Linked DNA regions of Homo sapiens. The protein of the gene in region 3 purifies or fractionates together with the protein of the main gene of each other region. This does not show direct contact. Each region holds a gene or a part of one and is shown on either strand. Other genes may lie near its edges. The genes, in order: GM2A, IMPA2, HSF2 and SDR9C7.

What was found.
Region 1: the proteins of HSF2 (region 3) and GM2A purify together in Homo sapiens (affinity purification with mass spectrometry; 2 studies listed by BioGRID and IntAct, with this or other methods). This does not show direct contact.
Region 2: the proteins of HSF2 (region 3) and IMPA2 purify together in Homo sapiens (affinity purification with mass spectrometry; 2 studies listed by BioGRID and IntAct, with this or other methods). This does not show direct contact.
Region 4: the proteins of HSF2 (region 3) and SDR9C7 purify together in Homo sapiens (affinity purification with mass spectrometry; 2 studies listed by BioGRID and IntAct, with this or other methods). This does not show direct contact.

Annotation. Positions count from the first base shown.
Region 1 is NC_000005.10:151,247,987-151,257,157, reverse strand, and holds the start of GM2A (ganglioside GM2 activator isoform 1 precursor), read right to left. Parts: upstream 3,974-9,171; 5' UTR 3,942-3,973; coding exon 3,861-3,941; intron 1-3,860.
Region 2 is NC_000018.10:12,004,513-12,013,011, reverse strand, and holds part of IMPA2 (inositol monophosphatase 2), read right to left. Parts: intron 4,675-8,499; exon of another isoform or gene 4,603-4,674; coding exon of another isoform or gene 4,421-4,602; intron 3,130-4,420; coding exon 3,025-3,129; intron 843-3,024; coding exon 797-842; intron 1-796. UniProt on the Homo sapiens protein: Phosphatase that can use myo-inositol monophosphates, myo-inositol 1,4-diphosphate, scyllo-inositol-1,4-diphosphate, glucose-1-phosphate, beta-glycerophosphate and 2'-AMP as substrates in vitro.
Region 3 is NC_000006.12:122,429,669-122,434,135, forward strand, and holds the end of HSF2 (heat shock factor protein 2), read left to right. Parts: intron 1-1,761; coding exon 1,762-1,846; intron 1,847-2,256; coding exon 2,257-2,552; 3' UTR 2,553-3,451; downstream 3,452-4,467. UniProt on the Homo sapiens protein: DNA-binding protein that specifically binds heat shock promoter elements (HSE) and activates transcription. In higher eukaryotes, HSF is unable to bind to the HSE unless the cells are heat shocked.
Region 4 is NC_000012.12:56,930,866-56,939,771, reverse strand, and holds the start of SDR9C7 (short-chain dehydrogenase/reductase family 9C member 7), read left to right. Parts: upstream 1-5,363; 5' UTR 5,364-5,510; coding exon 5,511-5,811; intron 5,812-8,906. UniProt on the Homo sapiens protein: Plays a crucial role in the formation of the epidermal permeability barrier.

The DNA.
Region 1 (9,171 bases), on a different chromosome or scaffold from region 3:
GTGGTACAAGACGGAGGGGAAAGGCACAGCTCTGGAGGCAGAGATATGGGTACTACAGGTATGAGTTAAAACCCAGCTCAGCCAGTCTTACTAGCTAAGACCATGGGTAAGTTAACCCCCTAGGGGTTCAAAATTTCCTCATTTATTATGTGGACATAATGATATCTTCTCACAGGGCTATTGTGAGGGTAAGATGTTTGTATACAGAAAGCACAGGGCACAACTCCTCAAGACTGCCAAGCTCATGAATAAACAAGGAAAGACTAAGAAGCTGTCATAGGCTGGAGGAGAGGGGGGACTACAATTATATGTGTCATGACAACAATGGCAGTGCAGTACCCTGGATTGGATCCTGGCTCAGAAAGAGGGCATTAATGGGAAAACTGGTGAAATCCAAATAAAGTCTAGAATTCAGTTAACAGTAATGTACTAATGTTGGTTTCTTAGTGTTGGAGATATGTACATATAAGATGCTAACAGGGAAAACTGAGTCAGGAGTATATAGAAACTCTATATTATCTCTGTAACTTTTCTTTTTTTTTTTTTTTTCTTGAGACAGAGTCTCACTCTGTCATCCAGGCTGGAGTGCAGCAGCGTGATCTCAGCTCACTGCAACCTCTGCCTCCTAGGTTCAAGTGATTTCTCCTGCCTCAGCCTCCCAAGTAGCTGGGACTACAGGTGTACGCCACCATGCCTGGCTAATTTTTGTATTTTTAGTATGGACAGGGTTTCACCATGTTGGCCAGGTTCAGGTTGGTCTCAAACTCCTGGCCTCAAGTGATTTGCCTGCCTTGGTCTCCCACAGTGCTGGATTATAGGGGTGAACCACCACGCCCTGCTGCAACTATTCTATAAACCTAAAATTATTCCAAATTTTTTTTTAGGAAAAAAGCACATAGCCCAGTACATAGCACATAGTATGGGTACAACAAATGACAGCCACTATACAGCACTATAGAGTCTATTAAGCACCTACTATATGACTAGCATGGGGCTAGATATCCTCCCCTGTTATCTAACACCCATCACAGCCTGTAGTCACAAGATCAGTTATGCTAGAAGAGGAACTGAAATTCAGGTTTCCTGATGTTCATTCACTGTCACCCCCCACCCCCATCTTTATCTGGCCCAGGGACTCAAGGTCAGGGCTCTGAATCACATGAGCCCCAAGAAGATGTAGGTGCTGTGTGATTTTGAGTGACCTTTATAATGTCTCAGGGCCTCTTCAAAACTGCCAATCTAAGACCTAGTCTGAGATGGCATCCATACCCACAGCATATACAACAAGTTTGTAGGGTGAGCTAGCAGCCTCTAGCCAGACTCCACCTCATAGCGGCCAGCCCTGGAGCCAAGAGAAGCATTCTCAGCCAACATTCAGGAACAAGGTATAAATTCTCCAGGCAAATGAAGTCAAAAGGTCCACGTTCCTTCATTCAACAAGCAAAACAGACTTTCTGCCTCGGGGGCAGAGTGAGGCCAAGCCCACAGATTTATATGGCTTTATTTGTTTCTGATTTTAGAAATTTTCCATCAATGAATGCATTTCCCTTCACCGACAACTCCCCGAGATGCACGTTGGCACCATCACACCCATCTTACAGATGAGGAGAACAAGACTCAGGAAATCCATGGATTGAGACAGGGGAATGATCAGAAGCCAAGCCTCCCTGCTTTCAGTATCACCCGCTTTCCCCTACACAGCACTGTTCCTCACTCTCAAACACTTCCAAGATGGTAGAAGGGAGGGGATCAGGGTTGGACCTATCCCTTTGCTACCAGAAATGTGTGATGTCTTGACCACAGCTAGCAGCCAAGAGGCAATGGAATCGGGTTTTTGTTTTTGGGGTTTTTTTGTGAGATAGGGTCTCACTCTGTCACCCAGGCTGGAATGCAGTGGTGCAATCTCAGCTGTAGCCATGACCTCCCAGGTTCAGGCGTAGCTGGGCCTCTCACCTTAGCCTCTCAAGTAGCTGGGAATACTGGCGCACACCACCACGCCCAGCTAATTTTTGTATTTTTGCAGAGATGGGGCTTCACCATGTTGCCCAGGCTGGTCTTGAACTCCTGAGCTCAAGCAATCTGTCCACCTCAGCCTCCCAAAGTCCTGGGATTACAGGTGTGCACCACCGCACCTGGTCTTGGGTTTTTTTTAAATTGACAAACCATAGTTGTATACATTTATGGGGTACACTGCAATGTGAAATGTATTCTCTTAGTTGTTTTGAAATGCACACAGTTCCTGACTTACAATGGTTTGACATACCATTTTTCAACTTTACAATCGTGCCTAAGTGATAAATATTCAGTAGAAACTGTACTTTTAGTATCCATACTGTTTTTCACTTTCAGTACAGTCTTCAGTAAATCACATGAGACATTCAACACTTTATTATGAAATAGGCTTTGTGTTAGATGATATTGCCCAACTGTAGGCTAATGTAAATGTTCTGGGCATGTTTAAGGTAGGCTAGGCATGTTTAAGGTAGGCTAGGCTATGATTCTCAGGTTAGCTGTATTAAATGCATTTTCAACTTATGATGGGTTTATCAGAACATAACCTCATGGAAAGTTAAGGAGCTTCTGTATATAATACATTACTGACGATAGTCACCCTGGTGTGCAATAAATCTCAAAGCCTATTCCTTAGCAGAACTTGGTGGCCCACACCTGCAGTCCCAGCTACTCAGGAGACTGAGGTGGGAGGACTGCTTGAGCCCAGGAGTTTAAGGCTGCAGTGAGCTACAATCGCCCCACTGCACTCCAGCCTGGGTGACAGAGTGAGACCCCACCTCTACTCTCAACTTCTGTAAGTTCAACTTGGTTAGAATCCGCATATAAATGAGATAATAAAACAGAACTACCATATGAGCCATTATCCCACTTCTGGGTATATATCCAAAGGAACTGAAATCAACATTTCGAAGGGCTATCTGCACTCCCATATTCATTGCAGCATTACTCACAATAGCTAAGATATGGAAATAACCTAAGTGTCCATCAACAGACACTTGATGGATAAAGAAATTATCCATCAACAGACACTTGATGAAGAAATTATCCATCAAATTGAATGCATAAAGAAAATGTGGCATATATACACAACAGAATACTATTCAGCCTTTAAAAGGGGGAACATCTTGTCATTTGCAACAACATAGATTGAATCTGAAAGACATTGGGCTAGCTGCAATAAGCCAGGAACGAGGCTTTTTCAGGTGAAGGGATTACAGAACTTCCCTTTCCCAGGGATCTGCAGCACGGTGTGAATGAGAAGTGAAGGAAGAAGCGGTGTCAATGAGAAGTGAAGGAGGAAGCTTGGAGGGTACGGGGACTGTTGTCTCAGTGGCTCATAACCAAGGGCAGCGGGGTCACAGGCCTGGGTATTTGTCACCAGATGGGCAAATCTGGATCCTCTGGCCTGGAAAAGCTCTCAAACCCTCCCAACTCTCAGGAAGACCTCAGGGCATTCGAGCAGGGGAAGAGATGAGGCAGCAGGCCTTATCATGGGGGACATAAGGAGTGGGGGTCAGGAGTAAGGTGCAGGGTTAACAGGACTGAATCTCTGGGGGCAATGCCTTAGTTTTAAGGCTGTCTGCATTTTCACTCCGGCGCTTGGAGGGAGGGCAGGAGAGTGCAGACGTGAGATTAATCTCTCCAAAAAGGGCCTGGAGCAGAACAAGTCTTTAGAGGCCACCCTCATTGTACAGACCAGAATCCCATAATTAGTTACTTTGGAAGGCTCTAGTGCAGAGAACCAATTCTAGAGAACGGAGTGGCCACCCCCATATCTCAGCCAGACCCGCACACCCGTAGCTGGGCCAGGAGGCTGCAAACAGACTCTTAAAAGAGGGTGCACTCACCTTTTTCAGGTGGGCTTGCGCAGGGGCCGCGAGAAGCAAGCCCAGGGCGATCAGGAGGGGAGCCTGCATCAGGGACTGCATCGGGAAGGGTGGGTCAGGGCGGAGTTAACTGCAAGGTCTGTGGCGGCAGAGGTGCCTTTAAATGCCTTCCAGTATTGGTTACGCAAAGAAGCTGAGTCCAGTCACTGGCAGGTTCGCCCTGCCCCGTCCCGGCCAGAGACTTCCCGGCCGAGAATTGGACCGATTCCTCCCGGCTCCGCCCCCTCGCTCTTTTCATTGGAGCCTGTCTCTCTAGCGTAGGTGTCAAGGCCTTCCCTCTCTGGGGCGTAGGCGGAGTTGGAAGAGAAAGGGGCGGAACTGAGCGCGGCGGGGCTGAAGGCGGCTGGAACGGAAGGGAGCTTAGCACGAGGTTGGGGCGGGATCACGAGGGCGGGGCGGAGCTGCGCGCGCGGGAGGGGCGGGGGCGTGGCGCGAGGAGGGGCCGAGCGGAGTCGGGGGCGGGGCGGAGCAGAGCTCCTGGGAAGGGCGGGGCCGGGCAGGGGATGGGGCGGAGCTGTGGTTTGTGAACTCGTGCCGGGGCCGTCACCTTTGGAAGGACCTTTGGGAAACCGCGGATTCAGTGTTTTCATCCCCAAGTCCTTCCGGACAAAAATGTCAGACTCTCTGCCATGTTACGCTTCCCCATATGTGTGTCTTTTTTTTTTTTTTTTTTGCTTTGAGACGGACTCTCGCTCTGTCGCCCGAGCTGGAGTGCAGTGGCGCGATCTCGGCTCACTGCAACCTCTGCCTCCCAGGTTCAAGCGATTCTTCCGCCTCAGCCTCTCGACTAGCTGGGACTACAGGCACGCGCCACACGCCCAGCTAATTTTTGTGTTTTTAGTAGAAACGGGGTTTCACCGTGTTGTCCAGGACGGTCTTGATCTCTTGACTTCACGAATCCGTATCTTTTTAATAATTATAACCGTTATAAAAACTAACATTTAGTAACTGCTTGAAAGCATGCTAAGGACGCACAAGGGAATGCTTTTTTTTTTTCTTCCCCAATTTTAGCACTGAGGAAACTGATACACAGTGAGGTTAGCTCTGCCAAGGTCGCACAGCTAGGAAGGAATAGAGCAAGACTTCTTTTTAGACACCCCATCAGCCAAGATTTTGTCAGGTTAATATACTAGTTGGAGATTTGCTTTTAGAAAAAACAGGGATGTTGTTACCAATACCGCCAATTTACCACAGGATTGTAAACTACACAAGGGGTGGCATCATGATGCAGGCACTCATTTATACCCAGTGCCTGATGCATAATAGACAATCTGTTGAGTACATGAATGCATGTGTAGAATTTAAAACTCACCTGATCATCTTTTTTAAAGTAAACTTTTTATTTTGGTTTACAGAAAAGTTGCAAAAATACTACAAAGTTCTGTTCGTTTCCTCTATTGTTGATAAGACACCCGTGGCCTGGCCGGGGGTTCAGACTGCAGACCCAGAGCTTGTGCTTGTGCATAACTGGGGGGCACTGCCAGCGACAAGGAGGTGGCAAAAGAATAAAAAATTAAAAAATTTTTTTTAAATCTGAGGGCATGACATTGGTACACTATTATTAACTAAGCTCCATACTTTACATAATGATCCTCCCATTCTGATCAACTCTTCCCTTTCACCTAGCCCAACTGAGGTAGGAGAATAGAGTCTGCAGGCAGGGAACCTAAGGCCATTTCACGCTGACTTCCTAGAACTAAATCGAAAGGAAAACCCTAACTTTCCACACCTAAGTAACAAGAGGACCAGAGGCTACTCTCTTTACAACCCCCCACCTTTTCTGTGCAGCAGATGGGAAATTGAAAGTACATTTCGATTTCTATGCTACATTTCAGTTTATATGTTAAAATTGCATAGAAGTGCAACTTTGTAACTTCACTTCAGCCTGATTGGTTGCTTTCCACAACCAATCAGATGTTTGCACAGGAGCATGACCTTTGTAACTTCACTTCGGCCTCTGATTAACCAGTCAGACTGATTGCGGGCCACCACTTCATTTACATGAGGTGAGCACCAAGTGGCCAATGGGAAACCTCTAGGGGGTATTTGGACCCAAGAAGATTCTGTATCTGGGCCCTTGAGCTGCTGCTTGGCCCGCTCCCACACTGTTGAGTGTACTTTCATTTTTAATAAACCCTTGCTTTTGTTCTTTCATTGCTCCATTTTTCCCTTGCTTTTCTGTGTGTTTTCTCCAATTCTTTGTTCAAAAACGCCAAGAACCTAGACAACTTTCAGTCAAAACCCTCTACTGGTAACATATTTTGGCAAGCCAGCCAGGAGAGAAGGTAGGCCCAAAGCTTGGGATTTATTTTTCTCCATTTCCCTTTTAATGCAGGGGAATTTTTCTCTCCCTCTCTCTTTTCCTTTCCAACTCGGAACCCAACTCGGTGGACAGCGCCTAAGCACAGAGGAAATTGTAAGTTTCTGGCCAGGGCCACTCTCTGGTGAGACTGAAAGGCTTCCGTGTCGAAGCACTTGACCGCCACTGCCTGGTCACTGAGAAGTCTTTTTCCTTGTTTTCATTTTTCTGAGTCCTATTCCTTTTCTTTTTTTCTCTCTTTTTTCTGAGTTCTATTCCTTTTTGTTTTTTGTTGTTTTTTGTTTGTTTGTTTTTTGCTTTTTCAGTCTTTCACTGGTCGTTTCCTAGTAGCTCCTTGGTAATTGAGGGAAACTGGCCGGGGCCACTCTCCAGTGTTCTCTGAAGGCCAAAGAGTGAACAGGGACGGCTGCCCTGCCCAGAAGGGTGAAAGACTCTTTTCTGTCCTTTCTGATTATAGATCCCTACCTGTGTCTGGGTTGGCAGCAGCAGCAGCTCATCCAGGGCAAACTCACACGTTTCAGGTGACTTAAACCTTATGCTAAATTCTTCCCTTCCCTTCCCCCACTTGACTGGCTAAGGACAGAAAACCCACCTAGCTATGCAAAAAGGTTATATGAGTCAGAGGGTCCAGGCATGTCGTAGGTGGTCTGTGTGATGCATGGGGAGTGGGGGGAATTCATGAAAGGTAATCTATTATTGCCTAAATTGAGAGAGTTAAAGGGTTGCTTTGCCGGCTGCGGTGGCTCACGCCTGTAATCCCAGCACTTTGGGAGGCCGAGGCAGGCGGATCACGAGGTCAGGAGATTGAGACCATCCTGGCTAACACGGTGAAACGCCATCTCTACTAAATATACAAAAAATTAGCCAGGCATGGTGGTCGGCGCCTGTAGTCCCAGCTACTCGGAGGCTGAGGCAGGAGAATGGCATGAACCTGGGAGGCAGAGCTTGCAGCGAGCCGAGATCATGCCACTGCACTCCAGCCTGGGCAACAGAGCAAGACCCTGTCTCAAAAAAAAAAAAAAGTTGCTTTAAGTGGCATGGGAAAACCTTAAGGAAAGTTCACAGTAGGTCTTCAGTGGTGGAGGGAACCATTCCAAAGCAATGCCTGCACCTATCTAAGGTCAGAGACATCTAACAGGCTAAGTCAGGGCCCTAATGGGGAGATGCTCCCAGGGACCCCAGTCTGGGCCCAGAATTTTTCCAGGAGGATGCCTCAGGTAAAATTTGGGTCACCTGGTCAGTCCTCTTCTCTTTTCCAGACCACTGTGGGCAACTCTCTACCTATTCCACCTGATTCCCCGCTCGGCTACGTCCTCCACCATTGCGATCAATTTGACCCTGACAATCTAAAGAGAAAACATATAATTTTTTTCTGCAGTACTGTCTGGCTCCATTATGAGCTGCCCAGCCTGGAAAAAATGGGTAGTCAATGGTAGCCTTAATTATGACATCATCCTGCAATTAGACCTATTTTGCAAGAGACAGAGCACATGGTCAGAAATCTTGTACATGCAGACTTCCATGACGCTTTACCAAAACCTAACAATCTGTGAAACTCCCAGAACCCACCCCACAAAGGAAAGTTCTAAGGGAGAACTACATATTATAGATGACCCCCTCTTACAAGGGCCACCTGTCTCTCAGAGTGAACAGTGACCACCCCCATATAGCCCCTTGCAAGTGCTCCTGAGGCTCAACCCCAGGAGCAAACACCAGAGACCCTACTAAGTCCCCCTCACATTCGGAGGGGAACCCTGTATTCAGCTCTTCTTCCAGCCCTGCTACACCTTAGGGAAGTAGCAGGAGTTGAGGGGCCAGTCCTAGTGCAGGCCCCCTTCTCTATAACTAATATTCAACAATGTAAGGAAAAGCTAGGAAGCTGTTCTGAGAATCCTAGGAAATTTGCAGATGAGTTCCACACTTTGACCTTAGCCTTTGATCTCTCATGGAGAGATGGTCAATTCATTCTAGCAACCTGTTGGCACTCCCTCAGGAAAGGAACAAATCTTTGAGGCTGCCAGCAGGGAAGTGGATGAATTATCCACCTGAAACCCTCAGGGCAATTACCGAGGCCCAGACACAGTTCCCACTACTGATCCTAATTGAAACTATAACGCCCCCATGGGAATGAACCACCTGGCTAAATTTCTTGAGGCTGTCCTTGGAGGAATGAGAAAGGGATTAACTAAGGCAGTAAATTATGATAAAGTAAGGGAGGTTACATAAGGCAAGGAGGAAAATCCAGCCATGTTTTATGGTAGGCTGGAGGAAGCCTTTAAATATATACTAATCTGGACCCTTCTTCTCCCGAAGGCAAAATATTAATGGCACAGCATTTCATTAGCCAATCTGCCCCAGATATCAGACGTAAACTCCAAAAGCTACAGATGGGGCCACAAGCTAATCAAAATCAGCTTCTTAATACTGCCTTTATGGTGTATAACAATATGACCTGGAGGAAGGAAAAAGAGAACAGAGTAAAGAAAGACGGCAAGCCAAAATTATGGCAGCCATCATTGGTGATGCCCTGAATGCCCAAAGAGCATCTAAGGGAAACCCGAAGGACTATAAAGATAATACCAGCAAAGGCAAGTCTTGCTTCAAATGCAAGAAAAGCGGGCATTGGGCAAAGGAATGTACTAAGCCCCCGCCCTCCAGCTCCCCTCAGGCCCCTGCTGTCAACGCAAAGGCACCAGTCACGAACCCTGGCACTGGAGAATTGATTGCCTCTGCTCCCACTGAGGGGCTGGGTTAGGCAAAACTCTAGCAGTGCGAAAGGAGGAATCAGATGAAGACTGAAGGGGCCCGGGGTCTTCCTCACTGCCCCTGTCCAGGAACTTTGTAATTACTACTGGGGAGCCTGGAGTAACTCTGGATGTCACGGGCACCCAAATTCAGTTTCTTTTTGTTACAGGGGCAAATTACACTGTCCTTACTGCTTATGCAGGGAAA
Region 2 (8,499 bases), on a different chromosome or scaffold from region 3:
CATCCTTAGACAAATTACAGTATTACAATTCTTACTTATCTTCAGCTTAAGTACTTTGAGATACTTTAGTACTTAACTTTAAATACTTCAACTTAAGTACTTCTCTCAGCTCCCCTGCCAGGGAGTCTGTGCTGAGACTAAGGTGAAGCTGCACAAATGCTGCTCTGAAGCAGGGCTGCTTTTGAGAAACATGCAGCCCTCGGCCCTATTTAAATAAAACTGTTTCAATTAGAAAGAAATTAAGGCTCTTCTCAGTGCTGCTGCTTGAATTATTTAATAAGCTTTAAACCTCAGCCCCACGCCTTCCATGCAGGTCGCACAACACTGTGTAGTTCAGAAGGTCTATGGGAACCATGAAAGAGCTATGTTCTCATGCTAATAACCAGAGGAAGATAAGAAAGAATTATTAGAATATTGGGATTGAGGATGCTCTCCAAAACTAAGTGCTCCTTTTAGTTTGTGAGATCACACGCTCTAGGGGTCAGCTGGAGATGCACTTGGACCGTTCACTTAAGACTTCCGCTTCCACAGCAGTGTCACAAATAGACCACGGTTGACACGAGGCCAGCCCTCCACGGGGGACAAGGGCCAGCCACGGAGCCCCACCCCGCACACCCCAAAGCCAGTCTGGACTTGTTTATTTTCTCGGATTTGAAACCCACAGGCTTGGATTTGCCAGTCATGATTAAGGCACAGGGCAAACAGCAAACCAGGCGCACAGAGGCTGAAGCCAGAAAGGAAGGATGGCCAGAGGGAGCCCAGGGAGGGGCCCTGGGGACCTGGGCCACACCCGCACCTCTTGTCGAACAGCAAATCCAATGCTAACCGCCACAGTCGGGAATCTGCAAAGGAAAATAGAAAGGTTTACTCTCTGGAACAAGAGCGGCAGCTCTCGGGAGCCTGTGTGCTGTGCGGCTCCCCGCAGGCTCAGAAGGACCTTCCTACACTCTGGGTGGGTTGGTTGTTTAAAAACTACTTCCCACAGTTTCACTAACTGCTTCCAAGACAAACAGAATAAACTGACCATGTCGTAAGACAGTTAACCTTGAAAGAAAACAGCACTGTGAAAGTCACATAAGACTGATGTAACTCAACAACCCTCTGAAGCCCAATTAGGAAGGATCTCAATCATCTGTTTTCTGGTTCTCCAGACCTAAAGGGACAGCAGAGCCCTCCCCAAAGGCCAGACCCAGTCCCAGGTGGGGCGCCAGGCAGGTGGTCCCAGAAGGCACCACAGCCTCCCCATGGGGGCCAGTTCTGAGCCACAGCTCACCCTGTGGCACTGCTAGCATCCCTGCCTGAGTGCCCAGTAGCCAGCTGCAGGGACAGCCACGGCTGCAGACAGTTTTCATGATCAGTTTGCCTGCAGTTTTGTGATTCTGCTATTGCCGCTCAATATCTTCAAAATAATCCTTCCTTTATAGGGAGATCACTGGAGCTTAAAAACAGGCAGGAAAGGCTGGGTACTGCAAACTGACAGGAAAAATGCAAAACCAATTGTACACAAATGCAACTCTGACTGCCAGGGTGTGTGGGACCTTGGGATGAGCCGCTGGCTTCCAGAGCAAATGCACCATGTGCCAGGCCTCACGCTTGTTCCAGTGCCCAGGAGAGCTTTCTCCCACTGCTGTGGCCCAGCACTGGTGGGCACAGGGGTGAACAGGCGCCATCTGAGTGGCAGATGCTGGTGGCTTTCGGATGTCTTCAGACCACAACAATCACCACAGCTATAGCGTGGGGTTCAGGAACTGTCAGGATCAGCTCTGGAGACTGTTCTGAAATTGCTGCTCTTTTCCCAGTCACCTCCCCAGTACCAGGATCCCCCCAGGGGTGCAGACAGGAAAGCACTGGAAACTATGTCTCTGGAGCCACTGAAGACCCTCGAATGGACGTGTGGCCTTCACCATGTGACGGGGCTTCACCTGCCATGTCACCATTATGAGCACCCTGGAACCACGAGCAGGCAGAAGTAATGAGGCTCCACTCAGTGACATACTCTGGGGAGGAGAGCCCTGGGAAGGATCATGCTTTAGTTGAAATGAGAGGAGAGATTGGTGACACATTTGCTGGCACCAGATGGCACGACTCCACTGCCTCGAAAGGGTCACCTTATGTAGGCACAACTGAATTCTCGAGGCAACTCACCTAGAAAAAGGCTGTGCTTAGCATGGAATAACTTCATGTTTTACATATAAACATGCCATCAGAGGCAGATCATAAAGGAGCCCACACCCGGGCTCTGCTCACCCTTCCTGCTTAGCGCGTGCAGCCTAGTGTGCTGGCGTGCACTGTGAGCGCAGGAGCTGCAAGCCACCCGCCCATGGAATGGGAATCTCTCCAGGGTTCTCCAGAGCTGGAGAACCACGCTCCGTTTAAGCCACATCATGCTCTGTGCCCCAGGCCCCCAGCCACCTGTGCGTGTAGACAGGCAGCGCAGCACCATCACCTGCCACTGCCAGAGAACACCTGTGGTCGTGTCCCTGTCACCTTTGCATCCTGTCACTTCACCATCCCCGAAGCTCCATTCCCTTCACCTCCCCACACGGGCCCTTCTGACCTCCCCAAACCTCCTGCTTTTTGTAACCACAAGGTTTGCTCTCATACAGGAAGCTGGCTCTCAAGTCTCACCTGTCACAGGCCACTCTCTACACCTTGGGCTCCGGGCCACTGTGGGGCAGCACAGGCTTTGTATCCCAACCTCACCTTTTTCTCCAGTGGGGGTGGGGTGTGAGGGGAGTCAGACTCCTTCAAGGGGTCCTTGTTAAATGCAACCCAACATTTTTAACATAACAAACTGGTTTTTAAACAAGTGCAGATTTCCTAACATACTCCAAGAGCCTCTCACAAACGGAAAACCTTATTTTAAAAATATCAAGATCTGATCATCTTTCTGATGAGACTATGAGTGTACTATAGGTTTGTTTATATATTCCTGCCTTAAAAAATGCTGCTTTTGAAAAGACAAAACCTCACAGAAGAGGACATGTTAAGCCCTGCAATGGAGGCGATCCCTGCTCAGCTCACCTGTGCACAAAATTGCAGGTGCCGTCGATGGGGTCGATGATCCACGTCGGGCTGTGGGTGAGCACACACTTGGCCCCAGAAGCCGCGGCCTCTTCTGCAATGAACCTGCAGTGGAAGAACCCAGCCTGAGAAAATGCACCAAGGACACAGAATAACGTGCCTGAAATTGCTTCCAGTCCCATTAAAGAAAAAGGTGGCACAGCAAACAGATGTCATCATGGTTTCTCTGGGTCAAACAGAGGCAGAGTCTTTAAACAACCATGTGCTTTTTGACCTGCCTGCCAGCGGACCTACTCAGCAGGATTTAGAAAACAGAGTGACACCTCAGTGCCAGCGTTCAGAAAGAGCACCAGGGAATTCCAGCAGGCCAGGCAGAGAAATGCAAGCGTGAAGAACACTGGAAAACAGATCTTCTGAAGCAAAACTAAACTCGATTTTAACTTCAGTCTGTAGGGGAGGAGGCTGATGAGATATGACCAAGCAAGGTGGCCCAGGACTCTGACTTTGATTCTCCCAGTCAATGCTGATACCTGGGCACCGAGGGGTTAAATGTCACTTGCAGCTGAGATCTCCCACGTCTGTACCCAGCCTGGCTCACCTGAACTGCAGACACAGGTGACAAACAGAGCCCCCCCGCAGCTGGTTCATTTCCCAAAGGTGCCCTTCCTGCCCTGGTATCTGACTTCCCTGGTTTTTTTGTTGTTGTTTTTTAAGAGATAGGGTCTTGATCTGTTGCCCAGCTGGAGTGCAGTGGTATCATCATAGCTCATGCAGCCTCAAACTCCTGGATCCAAGCAATCCTCCTGCTTTGTTCTCCCAAGTAGCTGGGACTACAGATGCATACCACCACATTCAGCTAGTATTTTTATTTTTGTAGAGGTGGGGTCTTGCTACATTGGCCAGTCACAAATCCAGCTTCCCTCTGGGAGCAAGCAAGGGTGGGGCTGCAGGAAGGAGAGAGGCTGGGACGCTCCCTGCCCCATGTGCCCTGTGCAGGCTCCACTCCTCCATGTGGCCTGCTTGACACATTCCTGCTAGAGGGACATGGGCGGCCTGCTCCTGCACTCTGCAGCAGGCCCTGGGCTGGCCCCTCCTTTGTAATGAGTCCCTCTGCAAACAAGGCCCCCTACAATCCTCACTTGAGTGTGCGTCTGTCCTGCTAGGAACCTGACCGAGACAATGTTCTCTCAAGATTCACCTGCACAGAAGGGAACTCCTGGTTTTCTCTACTTGCCTCTACCTCCACGAATGGCAACTCCCAGCACCCCCTGCTCAGGCCAAAAACAAGGGAAAGCACTCTCGCCCCATGCACTGTCACCCTTCCTCCTGCACCCCACCCACACGCAGGCCCACACACACAGGGAAGATGCTGTGGTCAGGTGTATTCGCAGCCCACCTTCTGCAGGCTGGTCCCTGTGGAGCTGGCCGCTGTTTACACCTTCCAAAGGCATTCTCAGGATCAAAGAAAAGACTAGATCTAAAGCATTCAGGGCAGTGCTTTTGACACTCTTGGACTGTCCCAAGTTCACTAAGGGTGAGGCCTTGGGCAGGCGCTAAGCAAACATCTGTTCTGTGCATGACTATGTGGCCTTGCCGAGAGGTTTTCTATCCAGTTCCTGTGCCGGGTTCACATGTGTACTAGAGAAAAAGGAGACCTGCAGAGAGTAAGAAAAAGAAAATAAGTGAAAAACAAGCAAGGCGCGGTGGCTCACGCCTGTAATCCCAGCACTGTGGGAGGCCAAGGCGGGCAGATCACCTGAGGTCAGGAGTTCGAGATCAGCCTGGCCAGCATGGTGAAACCCTGTCTCTACTAAAAATACAAAAATTAGCTGGGCGTGGTGGTGGGCGCCTGTACTCCCAGCTACTTGAGAGACTGAGAGAGGAGAATTGCTTGAACCCAGGAGGTGGAGGTTGCAGTGAGCCGGAGGTTGCAGTGATCCTAACGTTGCAGTGAGCTGAGATCACACCGCTGCACTCCAGCCTGGGAGAGTGAGACTCCATCTCAAAAAGAAAAAAAAAGAAAAAGAAATAAAAATACAAAAATTAGCTGGGGGTGGTGGCGCACGCCTATAATCCCAGCTGCTTGGGAGTCTGAGGCAGGAGAATCGCTTGAACCCAGGACGGGAGGGATGCAGTGAGCCGAGATCATGCCATTGCACTCCAGCCGGGGTGACAAGAGTGAGATTCCATCTCAAAAAAAAGAAAAGAAAGAAAAGAAAAAGAAAAGAAAGAAGGAAGGGAAGGAAGGAAGGAGAGAGAGAGAAATAAAGAAGGGAAGGAGGGAAGAAAGGAAAGAAAGGAAAGAAAGGAAAGAAAGAAAGAAAGAAAGAAAGAAAGAAAGAAAGAAAGAAAGAAAGAAGAAAGAAAAAGAAAGAAAGAAAGAGAAAGAAAGAAAGAAAAGAAAAGAAAGAAAAGAAGGAAAGAAAGAAAGAAGCGTCCCATGTTCTGGTGTTTGGTGTATTATCCACTGTGGTCATCAGCCTCCTGGAAGCCACTTTCCCCGCACGAACCATGTGGTCTAAGATTTGGCATCAATGAACTTTTGGATAAGGCTGGAGACTTGAGTGTGAATGGAAAGACTGAAATGAAAACCTCTGTGACCGCTCAGCGCCTTACAGTAGCCAGTCACCGCATATGGCTGCTTACATTTGAATTAAATAAAGACTTCAGTTCTTCAGTCTCATGAGCCACCTTTCAAGTGCTTGGCAGTCACGTGGGTGAGCGGCTACCACTGTGGACACAGCAGATGTGGGCCACCCCTGCAGCAACAGACAGAGCCGCTGGCAGTGCTGTCCTCCCACCGAGATGCTGAGAGGCAACAGCAGGCATCTCATGGTATTCGATGTCACTTTTTTTTGGAGACAGAGTCTCGCCCTGTCGCCCAGGCTGGAGTGCAATGGCGCGATCTCAGCTCACTGCAACCTCTGCCTCCCGGGTTCAAGCAATTCTCCTGCCTCAGCCTCATGAGTAGCTGGGATTACAGGCGTGCGCCACACGCCTGGCTAATTTTTTTTATCTTTAGTAGAGATGGGGTTTCACCATGCTGGCCGGGCTGGTCTTGAACTCCTGATCTCGTGATACGCCCACCTCAGGCTCCCAAAGTGCTGGGATTGCAGGCGTGAGCCACCACGCCTGGCCCGATGTCACTTTTCTATGCACGGGAGCTGCCATACACACTGTAACCACCCTGGTCCCCATCCACTCTGGGACCATCCTTCCACTGCTGGGTTATGAAGTTCATGCCTGGGATGCAGAGTCATCCAGCCCCTCCATTTTGCTGATAAATTATCTAGAAATACAACCCTGGGATACGACAAGTGCACGCATACATCATCTCAGGCTGTGCGACCTCCTCCCCGGCCCCCTGGAGAAACCCACGAATAAGCAGGGGCTTCTGAGCCAAGAAGACCAGGTCAAGTCAAGCCAGGAGCACTAAGCAAGACACCCAAGGAATCATCAGCTGTTCCTGGAGAGCCTGGGCAGGCTCAGTCTGCCCCTGGAGCTTTCAGCCTAGCCAGGCAAGGCAGATGAGATGCAGTGAACCCAGGCTTCTGGTTCTTCATCTACACTGCACGCCTTGCTCCTTGCAGGAACTGCCTCTCCACTCTCAGTTGTCCACATGCTTCTAGGTCAGGTGATGCACAGGCCCACCAGCCAGAGCCCCTGCTCAGGAACTGGTGCTCCCCAAACAGATCTAGGAGGAAAAATGGTGGGTAGAAGCCACAATGGCAGCCGGGGCAGGGGGTGGAGAGGCTGCCTCCTGACAACAGCAGCCTGCAGGAGACACACAGGTGATGATTCCACTTAGGGCGTGATCATAAGTGCTGTCAGCACTGCCAGTTTTCCTAGAAACTTCAGGCACTAAATCTGTTTTTCCATGTCTTCTGTAGCTATGTGACTTTCCTCTTCTGTAATGGCTTGCAATGACGTTTTTAAAGAAAACGCTCCACACCCTGAAAACACACATACAAGGAGCAACTACGAAAGCTTAAACTGGGCACAAGGTTGACAAAGCAGCGAACAGATATGACTCAGGTCCAGAGGGACTAGAAATGACTCAGGCACAAAGGTAAGTTTCTAAGAAACTGAGGAGGAATGTGCAATTCTTCTCCTTTTTAAACCTGACTTCAAGTAGGAAACTGAAGCGGTGGAAAGAAAACTGCCAGTGAGCCCTGAAGGAGGAGGCAGTGTGGGTCTGCAGGCACTGACACTCCACACCCAGGACAACTCACGCTGCAGCACCCAGACCACCCACGCGGCATGCCCACGTGCCTCCCAGGACACTCGGGAGCAGGAGCTCTGTCTGTTCATTCGCCAGATGCGTGGGACACCCTTTAGGGAAGTCACCAAGCAGCTTGTTTTCCCAGCAGCAACTATTAATATAAGTTAATTTGTTAACAAAGCTTCTGCTGTGTGTAACCTTTATTATTTATCTATTTGTTTTTTAGGTTTCATTTAGTGTAACCCAGCAAGTACTTTTAGAAATTTTTTTTTTTTTTCTTGGAGACATGGTCTCGCTTTGTCAGCCAGGCTGGAGTGCAGTGGCACAATCATGGCTCACTGAAGCCACAAACCACTGGGCTCAAGCAATCCTCCTGCCTCAGCCTCCTGAGTAGCTGGGACCACAGGCATGCATCACCACACCTGACTAACTCTGCCTCACATTTTTTATGAGAATAACTCTAAGTACCCACACTGAGCACTGGATGTTTTTCAGCAGCTGATCATTCATACCCTAGAGCTGTCTTCCTCATCACCCACCTTGTGTACACCTCTGCCCATGAGACTGCCTGCCCGCCTACAAGGTGGCACGAGCATCCCCCTTCCCACCTGCCTCATGCTTGTGGGCAGCAGGGAGCAGGCTTCTGCACTGTGTGGCTGCAGCGGTGTGAAGGCCAGCAGAGGCGTGAACCGTGCTCGGTCTTTGGAGGCACCAAAAATACTTCCCTGGTACATGGGAAGAGATGCACAATTTTTATTCACTTAAACCTGATTTTACTCATGTAGGAAGCTAATACCTGTGAGATGAAAGACAATGTTTTACAGCTGTCTGCAGAGGGAGTGGGGAGAGTCTGCTCTGCAGACATGACTGTAGACAGATGTGTGAAATCATAAAGACCTTCCTAAAAGCCACTGGAACATCTACATAGAATCCACAATATAGGCAGGGCACGGTGGCTCACGCCTGTAATCCCAGCACTTTGGGAGGCTGAGGTGGGTGGATCACTTGAGGTCAGGAGTTCAAGACCAGACTGGCCAACATGGTGAAACCCCGTCTCTACTAAAAATATGAAAATTACCCAGACATAGTGGTGCATGCCTGTAATCCCAGATACTTGGAAGGCAGGAGAATCGCTTGAACCCGGGAGGCGGAGGTTGCAGTGAGCAGAGATTGCACCACTGCACTCCAGTCTGGGCTACAGAGCAAGACTCCATCTCAAAAAAAAAAAAAACCCACAATATAAATAGGAAAAA
Region 3 (4,467 bases):
GTGAGATATGTTCCATCAATACCTAGTTTATTGGGTGTTTTTAGCATGAAAGAGTGTTGAATTTTATTAAAGGCTTTTCTGCATCTGTTGAGATAATCATGTGGTTTTTGTCATTGGTTCTGTTTATGTGATGGATTACGTTTATTGATATGTGTATGTTGAACCAGCCTTACATCCCAGGGATGAAGCCGACTTGATGGTGATGGATAAGCTTTATGATGTGCTGCTGGATTCAGTTTGCCAGTATTTTATTGAGGATTTTCGCATTGATGTTTATCAGGGATATTGGCCTGAAATTTTCTTTTTTTGTTGTGTCTCTGCCAGGTTTTGGTATCAGGATGACGCTGGCCTCATAAAATGAGTTAGGGAGGAGTCCCTCTTTTTCTGTTGTTTGGAATAGTTTCAGAAGGAATGGTACCGCTCCTCTTTGTACCTCTGGTAGAATTCAGCTGTGAATCCGTCTGGTCCTGGCTTTTTTTGGTTGGTAGGCTATTAATTACTGCCTCAATTTCAGAACTTGTTATTGGTCTATTCAGAGATTTGACTTCTTCCTGGATTAGTCTTGGGAGGGTGTATGTGTCCAGGAATTTATTCATTTCTTCTGGATTTTCTAGTTTATTCGTGTAGAGGTGTTTATAGTATTCTCTGATGGTAGTTTGTATTTCTGTGGGATCAGTGGTGATATCCTCTTTATCATTTTTTATTGTGTCTATTTGAAATCCATTTGTTATCAGGTTCTCATGTTTTAGAATAACGGTGACGTCTTTGGAAAATACCTATTTTAGGAAGCCTAAAAATAAAGATGGTATTATTTCATTAATGTTTATATATTTATTGTGAATGCTAAGTGATGAAATATTTTTATGTACACTTTTGGAAAGGTTTCGTAGTTTTTATTATATCTTGGAGCCCTTATTTTCTCTTAAATCCTAAAACTTACACAGCTTCATTTTATGTTAAATATCAGGGGAATTACTGGAATTAGTTTACAGTTGGTTACACCATATATATTTAGCCAGCATGTAGATCTGGGACTTGCAGATGTCTGGGACTTACAGGAAAAATTAAGAACCTCTGCACCTCAGAGTTTGAACATGAAAGGAGCACTGAAGAAATTAACAATGGTAAAGATATAATTTCCCTACCACAGTCAGATGTGAGGAGAGAAGAAAGTGGTTCAAAGAAGCAATTTAAATGACAGAAAAGAACTGACAGAGCTACAGAAAGGACAAGAAGAAACACCACCTCAACTTTGAGGCTTCTAAATAGTGATAAAGAGTTTTAAGGATGTCATTATGTCATCCTGAGCTACTCTAAATATGTTCACTTATGCTAAATATTCTGTTTATGAGTGAAATGTATAATACATTTTTTAAATCAAAACTACTTAAAATGAATTTAATTGCTTAGTTAATTATCTCTCAATTAACATTTTGAAACCAGTCATCTTTGATTCATTCTGATCTTTTACTCGTGACAAATTCTATCTGTTCTGCTGCTGAAATCCCCCTTCATTTCATACTTAATATAGAACATCTTAATTCAGGTTCTTTGTTTTATCCCCTCAGTGACAGCAATAGTTCCTTAACCAGTCTTGTTATCTCTACTCAGATCTCTCTCTGTAGCCCATTTTCCCTGATGTTTCCCCATCTCATATATTTCAGATAATATACCAGTATTTACATATTGTATCAATTTTTCATTTTTTTCAGAAACATAAAATATGAAACAAGTACTTATATATATATTTTTTTCTTTTAGTCTGAGAATAAAGGATTAGAAACTACCAAGAACAATGTAGTTCAGCCAGTTTCGGAAGAGGGAAGAAAATCTAAATCCAAACCAGGTAGGTATAAATATAGTATTCAGTCTCTGTAGGTTTTTTTAATCCTATGCAGAAACAAGTGCAAGCCGAGGGTAGTCTTAATTGAATATGCTGGCTTTAGTTCTGTGAATAGTGTGTCGAGGTTCTAGTATATAGAGAAAGTTGAATTGGTGAGGTAACAATTCTTTAAGTTTTTTTTTTTTATCCTATTTAACTTTAGGAAACTAAAGACCCCTCATTTCTTAATTGTTGAATAAGAGCTATTGACTTGCACATTTTAAAATTTATTGACATAGTGCATCATGTCATTTCTTGTTTGGCTATATGAGAGTAGTAATTGCCTATGTGTACATCTCTGTTTTCATTTTTTTCCCCTCAGCTTGAACTCAGTATAAGCTGGTGATAAAAGAGTGTTTTTCTGATCTTTATAGATAAGCAGCTTATCCAGTATACCGCCTTTCCACTTCTTGCATTCCTCGATGGGAACCCTGCTTCTTCTGTTGAACAGGCGAGTACAACAGCATCATCAGAAGTTTTGTCCTCTGTAGATAAACCCATAGAAGTTGATGAGCTTCTGGATAGCAGCCTAGACCCAGAACCAACCCAAAGTAAGCTTGTTCGCCTGGAGCCATTGACTGAAGCTGAAGCTAGTGAAGCTACACTGTTTTATTTATGTGAACTTGCTCCTGCACCTCTGGATAGTGATATGCCACTTTTAGATAGCTAAATCCCCAGGAAGTGGACTTTACATGTATATATTCATCAAAATGATGAACTATTTATTTTAAAGTATCATTTGGTACTTTTTTTGTAAATTGCTTTGTTTTGTTTAATCAGATACTGTGGAATAAAAGCACCTTTTGCTTTTCTCACTAACCACACACTCTTGCAGAGCTTTCAGGTGTTACTCAGCTGCATAGTTACGCAGATGTAATGCACATTATTGGCGTATCTTTAAGTTGGATTCAAATGGCCATTTTTCTCCAATTTTGGTAAATTGGATATCTTTTTTTTACAAATACGACCATTAACCTCAGTTAAATTTTTGTTTGTTTTCCTGTTTGATGCTGTCTATTTGCATTGAGTGTAAGTCATTTGAACTAATGGTATAACTCCTAAAGCTTTCTCTGCTCCAGTTATTTTTATTAAATATTTTTCACTTGGCTTATTTTTAAAACTGGGAACATAAAGTGCCTGTATCTTGTAAAACTTCATTTGTTTCTTTTGGTTCAGAGAAGTTCATTTATGTTCAAAGACGTTTATTCATGTTCAACAGGAAAGACAAAGTGTACGTGAATGCTCGCTGTCTGATAGGGTTCCAGCTCCATATATATAGAAAGATCGGGGGTGGGATGGGATGGAGTGAGCCCCATCCAGTTAGTTGGACTAGTTTTAAATAAAGGTTTTCCGGTTTGTGTTTTTTTGAACCATACTGTTTAGTAAAATAAATACAATGAATGTTGAGTACTAGTGTCTGTTATGTGTCTTCTTTAGAGGTGACACTCACATGAAACAATTTTTTCTTCTCATAGGAAGCAGTAGCTTTAAACTGTCTGTGGTTCATTATTCTCAATATGAATCATACCAAGATATTTGTGCCTCATCTCGAAAATATATTGTATATTGCAACAAGGGAGAAATATAATCTCTAAATTTAATGTATTTTAAAGTTCTTTGTTTAAAAATTATACTGGGTTGCTTTCTATGTTTCTAATAAAAAAGTGAGAGAATTATGCCTCTCATTGTCCCAAATAGTGTAAGAATATTATCACTGGATGTCTGGAGAGAAGATAAGAGAAATAGTCAAATCACCTCTTTCCTTTGAAACAGTTGCCCAAGAGAATTATGGAGACTTAATGCAAGGCCAGGGCACTTTATCATGTGAAGAATTTCACCTTTGGGCAAAGGGCTGAAAGCAGTACAATTAATATTGTATAGGGCTATTTAATGAGTTTCAAGGCAGGTTTTCCTATTGGCCATATTCTGTCAGTGTCTTAGAATTTCTTTTATTATGATGTAAAGATTCAAAGTAAGGGCTAGCACAGAAGAATAGGAAAATTCCCTTAGGAGAGTTTTAGTTAGATCCTAAAATACTTGGCTCTGATGGTGGGATCTTGGTGAATTAATTCAAGACCCTACAACAGTGCTCTGCGTGAGCTGAAGAGGTTATGTTTCTAAGGGTGATAAGAGTTTAGAAACTGAGAGGAGAAAACCTTAAAAGACTTTTCTTCATTCCTTTCTCATTGTGAAATACAGTCAAGTTTCTTCTTCTTGGGGGCATTTTGGAACTCTAGAAGCACTTAAAAAATAATTTTGAAAAACTTGATTATGACCCTGGTACTTTTAAAGTTGACATTTAAGATTTTTCATCTTAAGTTTAAATAGTTGGAAGGAATTTAGGATATAGTTAATATTGCTGTTTTAAAACATAATTGTTATATGTTTCTTTAACATTTACCTAAAGGAATTTGAATGCCATAGTGATTTGATCTCTATCATCCACTCTACTTCCTCCAAACAATTTTTTTTTTGAGACAGACTTTCACTCTGTCGCCCAGGGTAGAGAGCAGTGGCGTGATCTCGGCTCACTGCAACCTCCGCCTCCCAGATTCAAGCGATTCTCTTGCCTCAGCCTCTTGAGT
Region 4 (8,906 bases), on a different chromosome or scaffold from region 3:
AACCAGGATGCAGAAAGCAATTATTTATGTGTTTTTCTTATTCTTTCCTTCCATTTTCCTTTCTCTTCTGTCCTTTCCCCTTGGTTTCTCTGTCTTACCCCATTCCTGTCTTCCTGTTTTCCTGTCTCTGTCTCTCTCCCTTGGAGAGATATTTGTTGGGTCCTGGAGGCATGGGGAGAGCATCTGAGTCCATACAATATACTCTTGTGGCCCTTGGAAGAGTACCCAATAAACTCAGCCTAGGACAACAACAGGGTTTTGGCCCTGACCTAAAAGCTCTGACACCTGAGAGAGGAGCAAGAGAGCCAGAACCATTGTTGCCAGTTCTCATAGGGGTTGTGACCCAGTCAGCCCTGGTGGCCATGGCAGCCTCCTAAGCTGGGGAGGGTCCTGGCAGTGGGATCTGAGCTGGAGATTGAGGATCCCCACCTGGCAGCCTTGAACAGAAATGGGGGAATGACTTTTGTCTTCAGCCCAGACCTAGGGGGAGCCTCAGCTGCCTGCCTGTGCTGTGGGGTCCTCATGAGGTGAAGCACAGGGCCAGGCCTGTGGAGGAGGCTGGGCAGGTGGGTTCATATGGGCTCGTGGAGGCCCTGGACAGGAGCTGTGCCTCATGCTGTTGGCAGTGGAACCCCCAAAGAAGGGATTTGCTCAGGGGAGCTCTTTGGTCTAATCGGCTTCTAGACACCCACTTACTGCAGGGAGCCCAGTGGCTGTGAGTGTGGGGAGCCAGACTGAAGGCAGAGGGACGCTCCTTAGAGGACAGCTGCCATCACCCAGCTCAGAGGCCAGGGAGATTCCTGGGGCAGGAGAAGAAGGGAGGGGACTGAGGACTGCAGAGGAGGTAGAATGTGGGAATTCTGGTGATCCATTGGATGTGAGGGGCATAGGAGGTGATAGCACTGAGATGCTGCCTTGCTCTTGAATTGGTAGGACTTAGGGCTAGTAAGCTTTGGTATGTAAAATATGGAAACCCCAGAGAGAGGCAAGGCCACCATCATAACTTTTATCTGCTATCTGCTGCCCTTCCCAACTCTCCAAGCTTTCTTGCATCTCCCACTGTCGTTGCATGCTGGGTTTGTATTGGGTTTCTTTGTTTTTTGTATTTTGCCTCCCAAAATTTCTTAAGTCCTTGCCCTTCTGCATGTCTGCCATGCAGGAGGGAGCTCTCCCACTTTGGAGTGAAGGTGTCTGTGATTGAACCTGGTCACTTCAGGACCAGTATGGCCGGCTCTGAGAGGCATTTACAGAACCTCAAGGAGCTGTCGGACTAGGCCAGCCCCGAGGTCAAGGAGACGTATGGGGAGAAGTTTCTGATATCCCGTGAGTGAGCTGTGGACAGTGGGGAGATAAAGAAATCCTTGTCTAGAAGTCTGGGTCCATCATTAGTGCCTCCAACAGTATGAGAATCTGTCCTCCAAACTCTGCCTCCCCAAAAAAGTGAGGACATTTATCCCCATTCCCAGGGTGCCATGTGGTCAACTGTTCACCTAAAGGAAGCATCCAAGCTTTCTATAATTGGGACCACTGCCTCATCTGAATCCCTCATTATTTTGAAGAGGAAACTAAAGTCAGAGACAGTGGCTACCAGTGGGCTCATGGGCAGCTGGGTTTAGAGATAGCTGATTTTCATATTCTTAGGCTGTTAGTAGAGACCTTCCATTTATGAGTCCAGATATCTCAAAAAGAGAGGCAGAGGGGGCTTAGAGTGAAACGGATGTTCCTTGGGTGAAGGTTGGGGCACTCTCTGGGGAATATGGATGGATTAGACTTGAGGCATATCATTTGGGGGGCCTGGAATTCTTAGACACTGTCCTCCTAATTCAGAGCTCTAAATGGGAGGGAAGGGATGTGCTAGTACTTTAAGGATCTTTCCTCATCCTTAACATGCATCAGAAAAGCATCTAGAAGGCTTTGGGCAAAATGCAGTACGAATCTATCCTTGTTGACCCACTGCATGGAGCGCTCACTACTCAGCTGGCTGAGACACCAATCTTCTCTACCTCCCCATGAGCGACATGCCTACCTTCCTATGGACGTCACGCTCAACTGGGGCTCTCCAAGGCTGGCTAAGCCCCTGTGAATCCAAGACTGGGGTGCATGGTTGGGTGGAGCTGGGTGATCTGGGTGAGGTGATGTGTCTTGGGGAGAGTAATGGTGTGGTGGGAGGGAGCACTCTTGCCATTTGGATGCCTATCCCAGCTTCTTCCTCATGCCCTCCACAGAATTCCACTGAGATATCACTCAGGACTGGCAACATAGGAGGAAAGAACCAAGGTGTTCTTCTAAAGATTGGGACCCAGTAACGCTCATAGGTGTCCTGTTGCCTTTGAGTCTCTTGGCCAATTCTGAGGAGTCTACACAATGGGAGCGTGTGAGGAGGGGAAGGATCCACAGCCCACACCTTCTCTGCCTCCTGCTTCTTCCCCAGGTGTGCATCAACCTGGCCAGTCTATTACACTCTCTCCATGATGGAAATGGCCTGGAGGAAGTGGATGGGGGCTCCTCTGAATATACCTGTGGATAAGGTGTGGGGCGACAGGGCAGCCATCAGCCTGACCCCTAGACCTCAGGTGCCAGCTCTGGGGGCATTGGCTGGCAGTGGTGTTCTCGATAGGGATTCTGACAGAGGACACAGGAACCAATGTTTGACCCTCTTAAAACCATTGGCTGGCAGTGGTGTTCTCAATAGGGATTCGGACAGAGGACACAGGAACCAATGTTTGACCCTCTTGAAACCATGACCCTCAAAAAACCATCTGGTTACTTTAGTTCTAGAGCAAAAGCTAAAAAGTGCAGCCATGTGCAGCAAGTTGCCTTCTAGTCTGAGGGGAGCATGGGCTGTGAACAAGAGGGAGGAGGAGGCAGGTGCCTTCATGGGGATCTGGGGATAAGAGGGATGAACTCAGGAGGAAATTGAAGAGAGAAGTTGGATTATCCCTGCCCTGTCTCAGCCCTTTCTGCCACCAAGGTGAGGGGCAATTGTTTCCTTTCCAGGAGTGAATCAAGTAGCCTGGGGTCACAGGAGTGCACAGAGGGACAAGGAAGCAATGACATGTCACAAAGGCACTGGCAGGCCTCTTTGTAGCACTTTGTAGCGACCTCTTTGTAGCACTCAGTGACCGGCCCTCACTTTAACATCATTGCACTTGGGAGGGGTGCTGTTTCATGGGGTGAGAAATAGAGTGGTGGGAGGGAGCTCTCAAGTTCAGGGTCATGTACCTCACTTCCCTCACCTCTGTTCTAGTTTTTTTCTGGGACGTTATTCAGGACTCTGGTGATATTAGGAGGAAAGAACCACATTTTGCTGCTTAGGAAGGGAGACCCAATCACAGATAATGGCATCCCACTTCCTTGGGCTCTGAGCTTCATGGCCCACCTGTCAACCTGAAGAATCCACACTTGTGGAAGGTCTTGAGCAACTGGGGGTGGGTGAGCCCACACCTGCTCTTCCTCCTGTCTACCTCATCAGGGTGTGTCTTGGACCTCAGCAGTCTATGCTCTCCCACTGGAGGGAAATGGCCTGGCAGAGGAGAGGGCTCCTCTCCTCTGAGATACCTGTGTGCATGGGGTGGGGATGGGGAGTGCAGCTACCAACCTGACCTATCAGACCTTAGGGGCCAGCTTGGCAAGGAATGCTGTCATCTGAGAGAGGGAGGCATTTCTAGCCCTGGGAAGAAGAGCCTTCTATGTGGTCCTACCTCCCTCACACCCCCCACCCTCATGGACTGTGTGTTTAGTTTGAGGCCAGGGGAACACTGCCAGCATAGAGGCCCAGGAGGTGCTGAGTCAGGCCCAGGCCTGTGCTGGGGCAGTTCTGAGTTATCCTTATGCTAAGTCAGACCCAACTCCTGGACCTCACCTGTGTCCTCAAGGACTGGGATACCCAATGCCCCGGACCTGCTCAGTCTTGAGTGACATGGTCTGACCTGTTTCAGCCAAGACTTCTCTGTTCATTCACCCAGGAGGCAGACAGAGACTGGGAGATTGTTCCCAGATCCCGCATAGGAGGTGCTCTGCCTCAGGTTGGTTATGAAGTAGGTGTGGTTTGCTTTCTACCATTTCCCACCTCCATCCCCTATAAGCTTTAGGTCTGCTCTTTGGGGGTGGGTTCATAATCTGGCCCCCTCCCCTACTTTGTTAAGGAACGGCCAAACCCTGCGGGGCTTTCCCAGGGTGACACCTGCTTTATGTGATTCCACGCTGGTCAGACTTGGCAAATGGTGGATCACAGAGATACATCCTTTGTCCCTTCACACTAGAGAACTTTGTGGTCCCATTTCTGTGTCAGACTCGCTAAGCCATGAAGGTGTGAGCTAGGACCAGGCTCATCCCAAGGAATGGTGACCCTAGATGTTGATCCAAAGAACCACAGAGGCTCCAGCATCATTCCCTGCATCTTATGCAATTCTGGGTGTGGCCCCTCACTACTCACACCTCTGGTTTCCTTATTTCCTTTCCTTTACCACCTTACCTCTTAGCTTTCTGTAAATTATTTGCTAAATTGCCTAGAATCTCTGTTTCTCCTCCAAGTCCCGACCCTGAGAATTTTCTATGTCTCTGGCCCCAGTTCTCTGCTCCTCCTATATCTCATCCCCTCTTACAGTCAAGGCCTCTGCCCAGACAATTCCCTCAGCTGCCCAGTGAACTCATGATCCCTCCTCATCATCTTGCCCAGGGCTGCTTACTGGTGACCTGAGTATGACCCCCACAGGGTGTCAGGCCTGAGTCCCCCAGGTCTTTCTGCTTTCTGGTGGCTAAGCTTCACATGCCAGCCTCCCCTATAGGAGGGCCCTGCTGCCTCTAGCCTCAGGACAATGGAGGTACATCCACCCTAGGAGAAATCCATTGCTTTTCATCCTCTCTCATGATGGAGACTTACCTAAGAATTCCAGAGAGCTGATGACCTGCGACTTGTTTCTCTTGGGGTTTGGAAGGTACAGAACCAATGTTGTTTGTTTTACATTAATAAATTTGTCTTGAGTATTTTCCCTGAAAATAAACTTATTTACATACCTGCACTCACGACAAATGATTTTGATCCCTGGAGACCAAAATCCCCAGGCTGGGTTGGGGGCAGGGTGGGGACAGGATTTCTAGGGGAGCTGTCTGGGGTGAGTCCTCATCTTTCATTTGCCTGCCTTACACCGCCTGGGTGAGCCACCACTCATCACCAACATTACAAGTGGATTATTTCCAATTCTTGGCAGCTTTACCCATCAGGGCAGGGGGAGAGAGGGAGGCAGCTACCAGGGCTGTCAGAGGTGACAAGGCTTCAGGTTGGACTTGAATTTCTTGCATCTGGGCTAATTGCTGTGGTGATGCATCCACCTATAAAAATTACAGCGTGGCTCACCCAGGGACCTAGATTTGTTGCAAGCTGTGGGAGGAAGGAGAGTTCTTCTTCCAGGTGGTTTCCTGCAGACTGCCTGCTAGGGCTCAGAGGACCAGCTTCTTCCCTGCTGTCTCCTGAGCCCAGTCCCTCTTGGCCATCACATTCCCCTTGCCCTATGGCGGCCCTCACAGACCTCTCATTTATGTATCGCTGGTTCAAGAACTGCAATCTGGTTGGCAACCTCTCAGAGAAGTACGTCTTCATCACAGGCTGTGACTCTGGCTTCGGGAACCTGCTGGCCAAACAGCTGGTTGATCGGGGCATGCAGGTGCTGGCTGCTTGCTTCACTGAGGAGGGATCCCAGAAACTTCAGCGGGATACCTCCTATCGGCTGCAGACCACCCTACTGGATGTCACCAAGAGCGAAAGCATCAAGGCGGCGGCCCAGTGGGTGAGGGACAAAGTGGGCGAACAAGGTGGGGCGAATTACATTCTTTGGCTTTCTTGGTTTCTCCTTCTTCCTCTTCCTCTCTCCCGAAGCATCTGACAGTATCAGAGACCCTGATGTCCAGATTGGGTGGGAGGGGTGATGTAGGGAAAGGCCCCTGCCTCAATCTGATTGGAAGCCACTGCATGGTTTGGCCTGTTCACATGAAGGGGTGATTTCCCAAGGAAGTTTTCTGTCCTGGAAACTCAGAGAAACGGGAAAGAGGTCTCAATAGGAAGCGAGGGGGGAAGATGTGTTCTGTGTGTCCAAACCTCTAAAAATGGACGTGCCTGGCTGGGCGTGGTGGCTCACGCCTATGAGCCCAGCACTTTGGAAGGCCGAAGTGGGAGGATCATGAGGTCAAGAGATCGAGACCATCCCGGCCAACATGGTGAAACCCCATCTCTACTAAAAAGTATAAAAATTACCTGGGTGTGGTGGCACGTGCCTGTAGTCCCAGCTACTCAGGAGGCTGAGGCAGGAGAATCACTTGAACCCGGGAGGCGGAGGTTGCAGTGAGCCAAGATTGCGCCACTGCACTCCAGCCTCGTGACAGAGCAAGAATCCCTCTCAAAAAGAAAAAAAAGAAAAAAAAAGGATGTGCCTCTCTGATGTTTCAGCAGTCCTAACCATCAGCTCCTGGGGAAATACAAACACATTTCTTGTTGGGATCAGGATGGGGGAGGGGGAATGAGACAGGAGGCTGGATCCCATGAGTGGGTGCAGTTTGTCTCCTTGACTATGTCAGGCAGGGGAGAAAGAGATCTGGTCTCTTCTTGACATCATGGTGGGTGTTGATTTGACTTCAGGGCAAGTATGTATGTCACAGTGGCTGCTCCTATTGGGAAAGGAAGCTGTGGACTGGGGCTGGCCCAGGACTGTGTGGGGACCTGCCTCATGCACTTCCAGCACACAGGGTGTGGGCCCAGGAACAGGAGGAACAGGATGGCTGAGTTGCAGAAGCAGCAGACTAGAGGAAGTCCTCCCTCCTAAAGGAACTAGTCTGGAGCCCATGCGCAGGTCAGGGCAACAGAGCCCTGGAGCCAGGGGGATCTAGACAGTAACTCCCTGCTTGATTCTTCTCCTTAGCACTTATCACTAGTCAATGTACAATAGATTTTACTTATTTATTGTCTGTTTCCTCTGCTAGAATAAAGCTTCCTGGGGACAAGGATTTTTGTCCCTTTTATTTACTGTACATCCTTAGTACCTAGAATAATGTCTGGCACCTAGTAAGGTACTGAATAAATAGATTTGAGTGAGCTAATTAATTAATAATTCAGCAAGAGTGAGCCTCTGTCTTCAGCAGGCTGTCTCAGCCAGTTCCCTACATTCAGCCTTGAGCCACTTGCCTTAATACCTCACTTAGCATGTGAGTTTCCTGTTGCTATTGTAACAAATAACACAACTGTGGGGTCTGAAGACAATACAAACATATTATCTTGTAGTTGTGGAGGAGTAATGTCTAAAATAGGCCTCACTGATCTAAAATCAAAGTCAGCAGAGCTGTGTTCCTTCTAGAGGCTGTAGAGGAGAATCCGTCTCATCGACTTTTCCAGCTTCCAGAGGCAGCTGGCATCCCCTGGCTCCTGGCCTGCTACCTCCATCTTCAAGGCCCGCAAGGTTGGGCCCAGTCTTTTTCACACTTTTCTCAAGCTCTCTGATTCTCCGGTTTCTGCCTCTTTCCACTTAGGACTTGTGATTATATTGGGCTCACCAGGTTAATCCAGGATAATTTCCCGTGTTAGCTTCCTCCCTAACTTTAAGGACAATTAATTAGCAACCTCCATTCCACCTGCAACCTTAATTCCCCTTTCCCATGTAATCCAGCAGATTCACAGGTTCCAGAGATAATGAGGATGGGGACATCTTTGGGGGACCATTATTTTGCCTAAGCCACTTGGCAATATCCTGGTCTAAGAAACACTGGGAACTGGGGTGGGTAGGGGGATGGGAGAGGAAGTTCTTTCATGCTTTCTCATTGCTCCTGAATGGAGAAAGGCAGGGAGACTGGGTAGGGGCATGGCTTGGGTGGGGACCCCAGCCCTAGAGGGAGGGGTGGACTAGGATTTATGTTTGTGTTGAGACCTGCCCTCAGGAGACAGTGGGATGCGCCTGCAGAGTATCTTGGGGCTGCTGAGGCTGGGGCTGTGGTGCGAATCACCAGGCAGTAGGACTTGGGGAATCCTTGCATGAAGGAGCTGGAAGGGGTCCTTGAGGAGTGTTTAGAGGGGTTTACAGTAGAACCCCAATATGTAAAACAAATGAAAGGAGAGCTTCTCCTGCATTTTCCTCCCCCTAGAAGGCTTGCAAAATACAGCCTGGAAACAACTGTTTTAGTCTAATCTGATGAAGAGCCTGAGGCCCAGAGAGGGAAGTGACTTGTTCAAGGCTGGAGGTAAAACCAGGACTGGACCTGAAGCTCTTCAACCCTGGGCCCCTGCAGAGTTGAATGACAACACTTAGCATTATTTCTTTCCATTTGTACCAACCTAATTGAAATATCTCAAGGATAGTCCTCATCACATTTTCCATAATTATTTTATTTAAATATTTTATATATTTATTTATAAATATTATTATTTCCTTCTAGGCTTGTGAGTTCCTTGAGGGATAAGATGCTGTGTTGTTCATTTTATGTCTCCTTTGCCCTGTATTTTACTTTATTTTATTTTATATCGTTTTATTTCATTTTATTTTTAGAGACAGAGTCTCACTCTGTCACCCAGGCTGGAGTGCAATGGCACCATTATAGCTCACTGTAACCTCGAACAAGGTAACCTGTAACCCGGGCTCAAGTGATTCTCCCACCTCAGCCTCCCAAGTAGCTAGAACTACAGGCACATACCACCACGCCTGACTAATTTTTTTTCTTTTTTTGTAGAGACAGGGGTCTTACTCTGTTGCTCAGGCTGGTCTCAAACTCCTGGCCTCAAGTGATCCTCCCACCTCAGCCTCTCAAAGGGTTGTGATTACAAGTGTGAGTCACTGCACCTGGCCTCCTTCACCCTGTAATTGTCACAGACTAGATAAATGCATGAATAAATGTGTGAAGATGAATGAATGAATGGATTGATTTTGGTA